Regions from separate parts of the Homo sapiens genome. Here all the other regions are linked to region 1. The links come from fine-mapping of genetic effects on gene expression. A gene starts in region 1. Each other region holds a variant in brackets. All regions are shown on one strand. Distances are between the middles of the regions. Region 1 holds the start of CYSTM1 (cysteine rich transmembrane module containing 1). Region 2 overlaps PFDN1 (prefoldin subunit 1). Region 3 overlaps CYSTM1 (cysteine rich transmembrane module containing 1). Region 4 overlaps LOC124901086 (a long non-coding RNA gene).

Evidence for each region. PIP is the estimated chance that this variant, and not a neighbour inherited with it, causes the effect.
Region 2: its variant is the best candidate, but not a certain one, in a credible set for the expression of CYSTM1 in whole blood (TOPMed, PIP 0.54).
Region 3: its variant is the best candidate, but not a certain one, in a credible set for the expression of CYSTM1 in whole blood (TOPMed, PIP 0.63).
Region 4: its variant is the best candidate, but not a certain one, in a credible set for the expression of CYSTM1 in tibial artery (GTEx, PIP 0.67).

The regions. Positions count from the first base shown.
Region 1 is chr5:140,173,788-140,176,470 of GRCh38, reverse strand. CYSTM1 (cysteine rich transmembrane module containing 1) reads right to left here and starts at 1,283. Exons shown (of 3, transcript NM_032412.4): 1 at 1,186-1,283. RefSeq lists a silencer at 896-1,185 and an enhancer at 1,476-1,705.
Region 2 is chr5:140,255,222-140,257,904 of GRCh38, reverse strand. All of the region lies in intron 3 of PFDN1 (prefoldin subunit 1), which reads left to right. Among named protein-coding and RNA genes, the nearest start is that of PFDN1, 47 kb to the left of the region's middle. The variant GTTGTTT/T (reference allele first, on the strand shown) is at 1,519.
Region 3 is chr5:140,200,992-140,203,674 of GRCh38, reverse strand. All of the region lies in intron 2 of CYSTM1 (cysteine rich transmembrane module containing 1), which reads right to left. Among named protein-coding and RNA genes, the nearest start is that of CYSTM1, 27 kb to the right of the region's middle. The variant A/C (reference allele first, on the strand shown) is at 1,492.
Region 4 is chr5:140,152,641-140,155,323 of GRCh38, reverse strand. LOC124901086 (a long non-coding RNA gene) reads left to right here. Exons shown (of 4, transcript XR_007058964.1): 3 at 1,198-1,269. Among named protein-coding and RNA genes, the nearest start is that of CYSTM1, 21 kb to the left of the region's middle. RefSeq lists an enhancer at 654-1,313. The variant G/T (reference allele first, on the strand shown) is at 1,630.

The DNA of each region.
Region 1 (2,683 bases):
ATAAAAAGGAATTTTTAAAAATCTGCTAACATGGTTACTCCACAAAGTTTACATGTATCATATTGTATAAATCTATAAATATGTACAATTATTTTTTGTTTAATTTCTAAAAATTTGCCAACAATGGCTGAAAAAGGCACCTGGCTGCCTGAGCCCCTACCCTTGTCGGTTACAAGTATTTCATAAGCAGGGTTTGAGGAATCCCATCAGAGAAGAGTGTTGTCACCTTTTTGCCGGAATGTCACACCAACTTCCTCAGTGTTCCCCTCACACCAACTTCCTCAGTGTTCCCCCTACCCCAATCTAGCCAACGTTTCAATGGCTCCCCACAGCACACAGTGCCTCTCAGGTGGGCACTCAAGGGTCCTTTCCTAATCCTCCCTAACCTAATTCTCCAAACTTTTTTTCCCCCAAAACAGCCCAGCAGACGGTCCAGTCAGTCCCCAAATCGTTTTTCCTCATGGTCTCCTTCCCCAGGGGTCCTCCCCTCCTTCTCTCCCCCCTGCAACCTCCACTGCTACCGGGAGATTAGTTCCCACCCGTCAGGACCCCGCTCAGATTTCACTTCCTCCAACAGGTCCGCTCAGATCCCAATCCACGGCTCTCAACAGCAGCCGGGATTCCTTTCCCCCGCAACGCCTTCTCTGAACACCCCGGCCTCCGAGCGCCGGCTTTGCGTTCCCTAGTTACTTCCAGTCACTAGTTACTTCCGCTCCGCTCCCACCCGCGGGACTCGCGACCTGCCCCCTGCCCCCGGCTGGCCCAGCTCGGAATAGGCAGAGCAGCGCCTCAGAAATCGCAGCCCAAGGCGAAGAAATCCAGAAGCCTCCCGCGGACGTCCCCCGGGACGGGGTGTGGCGAGCCCCGCTCCGAGCCCGCCGACTCCTCGTGAGACGAGAACCGCAGCGACGCGGAGACCCTGTGAGTCCACCGCCGAGACGCGCGGCGCGGCGACCAGGAGCCCCAGAGTAGCCGCGGGGCGCCGGGAGGGATCCAGCTGGCGGCAGCAGCTTCCCTGCCTCCCTGCCCCTCCCCAGGGGCTGCGCGAACCCCTGCCTGAGCCAGGCCAGCCCGGGTGCCCCCCAGTTCTCAGGGCGCTCCCCAGGGAGCCCGGGGACGCGCCCTGTCCGTGCCTGATCCCCGCCCTGGTCCCAGCTGGGTCGGGCCAGGTCCGCTGCACCTCACCTCTCCTCTCCACGAACCGACTGGATAACGGTCGGGTCTGAACCTGAGGAGCCCGGACCAGCCCGCAGTAGACTTGCCGCACCTGTCTCAGAGCAAGTGAGGAGCAGCCGGGCGCCTGACGTCACGGCCGCTCCCAGCGCCGCGAACCGGGAGTCACCTGATCACCCTGGCAACGCGCGCGGCGCGGGGCGAGGCGAGGCTTGCGTCACAGCACGAGCCCCGCCCCCAACTGCTCGGCCTCCAAGCGCCGCCGGAAGCGCTCTCTTGCAGTCGGCGCAGTCGGGAGGCGGGGTCGGTCTCCGACTTCCCAACGTGGGCCTCCCAGCTGCGCTGGATACTTAGGACTCCCACAGGCGTCCCCCTCAGATTGGATTGGTTCTCCGAGACTCCACCCGATACCCCAACTCCGCTAGTTCAGGCGCCTGGGAGGCAAGACCAGCGTCCATGCGGAACCCTGCTCAGTGCGTGGCATGAGGGGTCGGCTGTGGGCTGCTGCCTCCTCGTGTCTTGTTGGTCCAGACCCAACTAGGGTTGGGGGCTTACTTCCCGAGCTGTACCTGAGCGGAATGGGGCTGAGGCTGATAACTGGATTGCTCTCTGGCTACTTTTCCCCATAAACCTTGCAACAAGTAGTCCCGCCAGTACTTTAGAGTGTAATGAGACTTCATTCACATCAGGAGGGGGAAGGGGGACAGAATCTTCTGTCCTGAAGGTTTCCTTCTTCTGTTCCAACAGGAAGAGAAGTTACCGAAAAGCTCCCAGAGCAAGGCCTAGAATGAGCTTGCAAGTCCTACTTGCAAAAAATTTTTTATTTTTCATTTTAGAAATTGATTTTCTCTCCATATTCCTCCCCTTGCTTGCTATTAGGTTGGTGCAAAAGTAATTGTGGTTTTTGCATTTTTTTTTTAAATGGCAAAAACAGCAATTACTTTTGCACCACTCTAATATAAGTATATGCCTACAACTTTTGTTACTCTCTAGGCTTCCCAGATAAGACTATCAGCTTCGAAATGAAAATTTAACATCCCCTGGAGGTCTCAGTGTGAGAGTCACTGCCTATTTCACACCTTCACTATTTGCTGACTTTCATTTCAGTTTTACTCTCCTCATCCCTGCACTGCCAAGAAGGTTTCATATGTATTGAAACCTTCCCTCTCAAGAGTTTAGGATCTTAGACCAAGAAGTTAGTTTATAGTCAACTTCTTGTGAGCATCTTTTAGTGTCAGGCAATGGGCCATGGGCAGATTGAGATGTGGTTCTCGAAGATCAAACGTGTATGGGTGGTATGTCTCACATAAGTACAACTTGTACTGTTTATTATGACTTAATCATTGTATTTAAGTGGCACTTTTTAATTTTCACACTTAAAGAAACTCATATAAGTGGGAAAGAAGACAGCTGTGAAAGGTAGAGAAGAACCATGGCTCTAGACAGAGCTGTACTAATAGGAGAGAAGAGATTGAAAATGTGAGCCCAGGTCCCAAGGAGCACAGAGGCA
Region 2 (2,683 bases), 81 kb before region 1:
GTTCCTTGATTCCATCAGATGTTTCCTCCATCGAAGACCATGGTTTCCCTCAGATCCCTTATTACAATGGTAGCTAAATGTCTGTGTGGCCTGCAACAGTATAATCTCCAGGGATAAGTGTGTGCTTTGTTCGCTTCTCTACTGTTGGTGCTCTTTGGAGTGCTGAGTGCCCAATACCTGTTGGTTAGATGAATTATGTGCCAGTTCTTGGTGCTAGGGTTATAGCATTAATCAAATCAGACATGATCCCTACTCTTTGGAGCTTACACTGAGATACAGACAATAAAGAAATAAACAAGAAACCATCATGTAGTAAGGGTGATGTTTTAGAGAGTTACTGGAGACCTTCTTTAGTTGAATAATTGGGGAAGGGCTTTCTGAAAAAGTGAAATTTCAGCTAAGATGTGAATGAAAAGAAGCAGACAGCCACCTAAAAGTATCTCAAGGAAGAACATTCCAGGTGGAGGTCACAGAGAAATATTACACAGAGAGATATTCCTGTCTTAAGACAGAAATAAGTCTGCTGGAGCTGTTTAAGCAAGTGAAAGGGGGACAGAGTAGTAATGAAGTGGAGGGGTTGGCAGGAGTGAGGCCATGTGGAGCCTGAGCACCTTGGTTAAAGAGTCTGGCTTGTTTTCTAAGTGTGAGGTGAAACCATTAGAGGCTTTTTTTTTTTTTTTTGAGATGGAGTTTTGCTCTTGTTGCCCAGGCTGGAGTGCAGTGGCGTGATCTCGGCTCACTGCAACCTCCACCTCCCGGGCTCAAGCGATTCTCCTGCCTCAGCCTCCTGAGTAGCTGGGATTACAGGCGTGTGCCACCATGCCCAGCTAATTTTTTTTATTTTTAGTAGAGACAGGGTTTTTATCATGTTGTCCAGGCTGGTCTCAAAACTCCTGACCTCAGGTGATCCACCTGCCTCAACCTCCCGAAGTGCAGGGATTACAGGTGTGAGCCACCACGCCTGGCCCATTAGAGGTTTTTTGAGCAGAGGCTAACTTGATTCAGTGTGAGAGTGTCCACGACACACCTCCAGGCAAGAGATGATGGAGGCTTGGACTAGGACGAGGGCAGTGGTGCTAGATAGAAAGAAGAGTAGAGTTTGGGAATATATTTGGAAGTAAGCTAATAAGATTTGCCGATGGATTGGATGGAAGGTGTGGGGATTGAGGAAAAGAAAAAAATCAGGGATGTGCCATGTAGGGTCATTCTTGAAAAACATAGCTTTTTTTTTTTTTTTTTTTTTTTTGTCATTTTTTGTTTTTTACATTGAGCAGTTGGATGAGTGCCATTCACTGAGATGGGGAAGTCAGGGAGGGGTAGGGGTGGGGGTGACCATAAATCAGTTGTGTTTGTTTTAAACATATTAAAGTCTGGGTTTGACATCAAAGAGGATATGTTTTATAAATAATTGGATATGTTAAATCTGGAATTAAGGGGATATAGGGTTGGAGATACAAATTAGGAGTCATATAATGTTTAAAGCTATGAGATGAGAGTATTGGTTTTGTTGTTGTTGTT[GTTGTTT/T]GAGATGGAGGCTTGCTCTGTCACCCACGCTGGAGTACAGTGGCTTGATCTCAGCTCACTGCAACATCTGCCTCCTGGGTTCAAGCGATTCTCATGCCTCAGCTTCCCAAAGTGCTGAGATTACAGGTGTGAGCCACCACACCTGGCCGAGATGAGAGTTTCTAAGAGGGAGTGCAGATGGGGAGAAGAGGAGGAGTTCCAGGACAGCTTCTTGGGAAATGCAGCATTCGGAAGCTGAGCAGAGGAGGGGTAGTCAGCAAAGGAGAACTTAGAAAGAGTAGCCAGTTATGTCGGAGGAGAATAGAAGTGTGGTGTCATGAAAGCTAGAAGGAGAAAGTGTTCCAAGAACTGTGTTGAACACTGTTGAGAGGTTGAGTAAGATGACAGAGAAGCACCCATAGAGATCATTGGACTTGAATCACAGCCAATTCATTAGAGGAGGTAGAAGTGTGATTGGAGAGGTCTGAGGAGCAGATAGGAGGGAAGACAGGGGAGGCAGCTGCCTTAGAAAACCGATTCAAGAAGTTTTGCAGAAAAAAGGCAGTACTTTCAGGGGACTGAGAGGTAAAGAAAGGGTTTTTTAATGGTTTGCCTCACCAAGAAGGATCTTGCAGAGTAAGAAATAGAAGATTAAGAAGAAAGGAAGGTTAATGGTAAGAGTGAAGTTTCTGAGAAGGTATGTGGGGATGAAATCATTGTCTAAGTGGAAGGGTTGTGTGTGTGTTTTTGTTTTGTTTTGAGACAGGGCCTTGCTCTGTCACCCAGGCTTGAGTGCAGTGGCATGATCACGGCTCACTGCATGCAGTCTCAACCTCCTGGACTCAAGTGATCCTCCTGCCTTAGCCTTCTGAGTAGCTGGGGCTACAGACATGCACCACCATGCCCAGCTGATTTTTTTATTTTTGTAGAGATGGGGGTCTCGCTGTAGAGATAGGGTCTCACTAATAGGTGGGTGATATTCTCGGCCAGGGTTCTGTAAATTACAGCCCAAGGGCCAGCTGGTCTCAAACTCCTTCCCTCAAGTGATCCTCCCACCTCAGCCTTCCAAAGTGCAGGGTTGTATTTTGATTCCTTTAAAAACACAGTACAGGGATGCTATCAATTTTAACAGTAGAGAAAGAAGAGACTATACATACAGGTGTAGGTCGATTAGTAGATT
Region 3 (2,683 bases), 27 kb before region 1:
TATTCTGATATAAGCCTAGTTATAGTGTTTAATTTTTCACTTTAAACAGTTATGATACTATGGCATATTTATTAGAATCTAGAAATAGTTTTGTTATTTAGAATGTTTCAGTCAACAGGAATTCACCTGTCACCACTGAAACTTGTGGTAATGTTTCCAAAGATCTCCCATCCCATATGCCTTTTTGCAATGTGACTTACCACTCTCCCAACAAGGAATGAAGTCTATTTTCCTCCCCTTGAAACTAGGCTAGATAGACTTCATGTTGCTTTGACCAAGAGTGTGATGGATGTGACATTGTGTGACTTCTGAGCCAAGGGGGTGAAAAAGCCTGATGGATCATTGTATTGTGGCTATGTAAGGTTTGGGGAAATCGGGATGAAAGGTATACAGAACCATTTGTATTATCTTTGCAATGTTTTTCTAAGTCTGAAATTGTTTCAAAATTAGAAGTTAAATCGAAAGTTTTTTGTTTCATTTCTTTTTTAAGGCTTTTATTTTATGTTCAGGGGTACATGTGCAGGAAGGCCTGGCAGATTCCATTCTTGCATTGTAACATGGAAAAAACCCACCTACTCTGAAACTCTCATGCTGTGACAGCAGCACTGAGAGACCATGCAGAGGGACAGAGACAACCAACCCTACGCTGTTTCAATCATGTCAGCTGAAATACCAGACGTGATTTTTTTTTCTTTTTGGATTTGAGATAATTTCTTGTTATAATGAGCCAGAATTACAAGGTTCCATTGGAACTGAAACAGCTGACAGAATAGGGTTGAAGTTAATCAAATCTTCAAGGACAATAAGATCAAACAAAGCCAGTAGAAGTGGAGAAACCCAACACTGGTTTGGAATGCACACAGAAATACTAGCATGTAGGTGCCTCCTGACCCCTCCCAGCAGTTGGACATCATGCTCCCACCCCTTTCTCCCTTCTAAAGCACTGGCCAAACCAAATGGCTTCTTTCTCTGTATTGCAAGTGTAAGTCAATCCAAGAGTACCCTTTTGGACATAATACAAAGCCAAGAAGAAAGTTGATGGATCATATTGGACGGTAGAAAGTGTACAAATCCAACCCAGCAAATTGCTTATCATTATCTACGTTCCAGCCTCAGTAGGTGCCAACAAGGAGCAGAGATGAATCAATCTTTCTGCTCAAGCCCTGTCCAAATTATGGAACCTCTAAGATTGGGGGTGGTTTGTGACGTAACAATAGATAACCAAAACATACATCAACCTTCCACCTATGGCAAATGCCTTAAATTCTGCTCTGGCAAGATCTGGCTGCCAAATGGACCTTTTGGATCTAATCCTTAGGGTGAGATCAGTTTCACATTGTTCTTTGCTAAGTGCTTTTGTTTCCAGAGTTCATTTTATACAGTACCACTGCTCTTATTTCAATAAGATTTATCTTCAGTATAACTTAAGAATATTAGCAGGCCAGGCGCAGTGACTCATGCTTGTAATCCCTGCACTTTAGGAGGCCGAGG[A/C]GGGTGAATCACCTGAGGTCAGGAGTTTGAGACCAGCCTGGCCAATACAGTGAAATCCCATTTCTACTAAAAATACAAAAATTAGCTGGGCTTGGTGGCGTATGCCTGTAATCCCAGCTACTCGGGAGGCTGAGACAGGAGAATCACTTGAACCTGGGAGGCGGAGGTTGCAGTGACCCGAGATTGCGCCACTGCACTCCAGCCTGGATGACAGAGCAAGACTCCGTCAAAAAAAAAAAAAAAAAAAAAAAGAGTATTAGAGGATTCCCCCACTTTCTGGTAGGAGGGTTTTCTTCTCCCTGCAATGTTTGTTCCCTCAGAATCCCTTTTTTCTGTTTGGATCATCATCTTTTATCTTGGAGGCTTTCTTTACTCAGATGTCTGGTGAACCTCCGTTGCTGGTTAATATCTAAGGCTAAGGTTCTATCACTTGTAGCCTTAAGAGTCTTGACCAAAACAAACAGTGAAAGCCTAAACACTAAGAGCAAGGTTGATTGAATTCAGACATAAAAAAGCTAAAATGGACTGTACATAAGGTAGACACTATTGAATCTGGAGCAAGAAGAAGGGCTCTGAAAGAAGTCTGTATAGGGTGCAGTTGAAGCAAATAGGAGTGGTAAATTCTACTGGAGGTATAGTATAGGTAAGCAAAAGCTTCAAGGAAGAAGAGATATTTTCTTTTGATCGCCAGAGATGTGTAGGGTAGGTTGTGGCAGAGTGGGAATGAGAGGTGGGAAGTAAAGGAAGCAGCATGAACAAAGTTAGGGTATATGGACCAGTATGGCAGGTTAGAGGCCTTACCTACATATAGACTACCTAGATGATAATATTCTGGATTTCAAGCTGATGTAATTATTGGATGAGACATCTAGTGGTGGTGGAAGGGGGTGGATATATTTTGCATATGAGGGGGATGTAAATTGTTGAGAGCAAAGGGCAGAATGTGGTGGACTGTTTGCACAGACGGTCACCAATTCCTCTCACCCTGTATTCACATGCCATTCCTCCAGGATGGAGTCTATTTTATACAAATGTTTATAACAGCCATTATTCATTATTCCTAATAGCCATAAAGTAGAAACAACCTAAATGCCCATCAACCAATGAAAGGATAACTAAAACGTGGTATATCCACAATGGAATATTATTTGGCAATAGGAAGGAATAAAGTATTGATACATGCTACAACATA
Region 4 (2,683 bases), 21 kb after region 1:
CAGGCAACCAGACGCACCAGCCACCAGCACGTCAGGGGAGCTGAGAGCATAAGCTATGTTATCTGGGTCCTGGGCACGTATCGCAGCTCTAAGGCTTGGCAGCTTTGGCAAATTTCTTCACCTAAGCCTCAGTTTGCTTGCCTATAAAATGGGAGCAATAATAATAACACCAACCTCATCGAGTGTTTTGGGGGACTTAGTGAGATAATACACGAAACGTCCTGGCACATAATGGGCACTTGACAAACATTAGTGTTATTATGTATTCTTTCTTTTTTTGAGACAAAGTTTTGCTCTTGTTGCCCAGGCTGAAGTGCAGTGGTGCAATCTCGGCTCACCGCAACCACCGCCTCCTGGGTTCAAGCAATTCTCCTGCCTCAGCCTCTCGAGTAGCTGGGATTACAGGCATGTGCCACCACGCCCAGCTAATTACAGGCATGTGCCACCACGCCCAGCTAATTTTGTATTTTTAGTACAGACGGGGTTTCTCCACGTTGGTCAGGCTGGTCTCGAACTCCCAACCTCAGGTTATCCACCCGCCTCAGCCTCCCAAACTGCTGGGATTACAGGCGGGAGCTACCGTGCCCGGACTATATATTCTTTTATATAGGCCTTTATCTTTTATAGCTCCTTTGTCACAGGATTCTGCCAGTTTGGAGATAAGGAACCTGAGACCCAGAGAGGTGAACTAACTTGCTTAGGGTCCCACAGTTAAAAAGCAGAGGAGTCGGGATTTGAAGCCAAGTTTCTTTGACTGCAAAGCCTGTGCTCCTAGGAGGTGAGGGAGGGAAGAGATCAGTGGCTGCCTGGGAAGAAGCTGGGCTCCTGTTCAGTCATATTTTCATGGATTCAACAGATGGGTGTAAATCTTTCTGGGGCTGAGGGTGGAGTACACATCCTCTTTTTCTAAATGTGGGAGTCAGGCAGGGCTCCCGCTGGTCCCAGTTGCCCCAGCCATGATGGAGGCAGAGCAAGCAGGAGTGGGGAGGAAGAGAAAGCCACTCGGGGCAGGGAGTAACTGAGTCCCAGGGGCTTGGAGTTGGGCTGAGGCCACTAACGGAGCCCTGGCAAGTCTTTCTTGCCAGCCTGAGCCACAAATCTCTGCTCACTCTCACCCCTAGGAGTTTGTGGCGCCCCCTCCCTTTCCCACCTCAGCCTGGGACCCCTCCTTTCTCTCCTCCTCCCTCCTGAATGCAGTAATCCCAGCTAACAAAAGCGACCATGGCTACTCTGACGTGTGGGACGACGATGCTAGCCAGGCCGTGCCAGGTCAGTATGCCAAGCTGGGCTCAGGCCCCTTCCCACGTGCCAGGGTGCACTGGCCCTGCTGTCTGCTCCCTCCCCATGAAAACCCAAGCAGCCCTCATTTTTGAGACAATGGAATTAAACAGCTATGGGACAGGTGGAAGTAGGGGGCTGTGAGAGTAGGGAAAAAGTAGAACCTTCCTGAGCCTGTCCTGCCTCCTCTCCAGCTCTGGAAGGATGGGCTGCAGACCAGGGCTTGAGAAGGAAGAGGTCAGATGGGTTGCAGAGTGCAAAAAGGACTGCCCTAATTAGAGGCCTCTTAAATTCTCTGAGCCTCAGTTGCCTCATTTGTTAAATGGAATTAATAAACTCTCCTGAGGTTTG[G/T]TTGGATTAAAAAAGATAATGAATGAAAAATACTTAAGCACAGGGCCGGACACATAGCAAGCACTGGATAAATGATCTCCCTTGCCGCTGCAGGGGCTGCTGGTGCTGTTACTGATGCAAATTCTGAGCCGTGGCCACGCACACTTTGGCTGGCCTCCAGGGGACGGTCAGCTAGGTCCGCTGGGGAACCTTCCTCCCTGCCTGGTCCCACTAATGATGACACCAGGTCCTTGGGCCTGATGCAAGAAGATCAGATGTCCTGCAAGGGAGAGTCACCATCTCCTACCTCATCCCCGGCACCCCACCCCCACCTTACCAGAATGCAAGGTGTCCTGGCTAGCCTGCAAGGTGGGATGGGGACCCTTTAGCTACAGGCTGCCTGATTTCTCCTCCCTTCCTCTCACTGCTTCTCTGCCTTTAACTTTTCTCTTTGCCAATGCCAGAGACCTGCTTTCTTATGCCAAGGAGAGAGAGAGAGGAGGAGGGAGGGGGCTGGGGGAGGGGTGAGGAGATGGAGGAAGCGCTCCAGTGCATAAAGAGGAAGGGGCTTCCTTCCGCTCTCTGTCTTTTCATTGTCAAGTTGAAATTGGTGACATTGGGTAGTATATTTAAGACATCTGTCCCCATGCCCTGCCACTCCCTTAGGAAAAGAGCTGCTCTCTGTTTGCGTAATAGAAGAATAGAAGCTTTAATAAAAGTTTTATTAAATAAAAGAAGCTTAATAAATAAAAACTATTACACAACAACAGAGTCTGCGGTCCCATTGGCCACCTGACCACTCACTTCCGGACTGGGGGCTGTTGTGCCCATATCCTGGCCTGTGTCCTTCCGCTCTGTGGGGCGCAGGACAGGGCTGGACCTGGTAGAGGCAACAGTGCAGGCTTGGGCCCGGGCTGGGGCTGAAATCCTGACCCTCGGCCCTTTTGGATAATAGCAGCCTGAGCAGGGGGTCCTTGAGAACTGGGATCACCAAAGTCCTGGTCCTGAGGCAGGATCTTTTCAGTCCCTCCCACAGGTGGGGCCACCCCTCTGCCCCACCAAGTTGCCCCAGAAG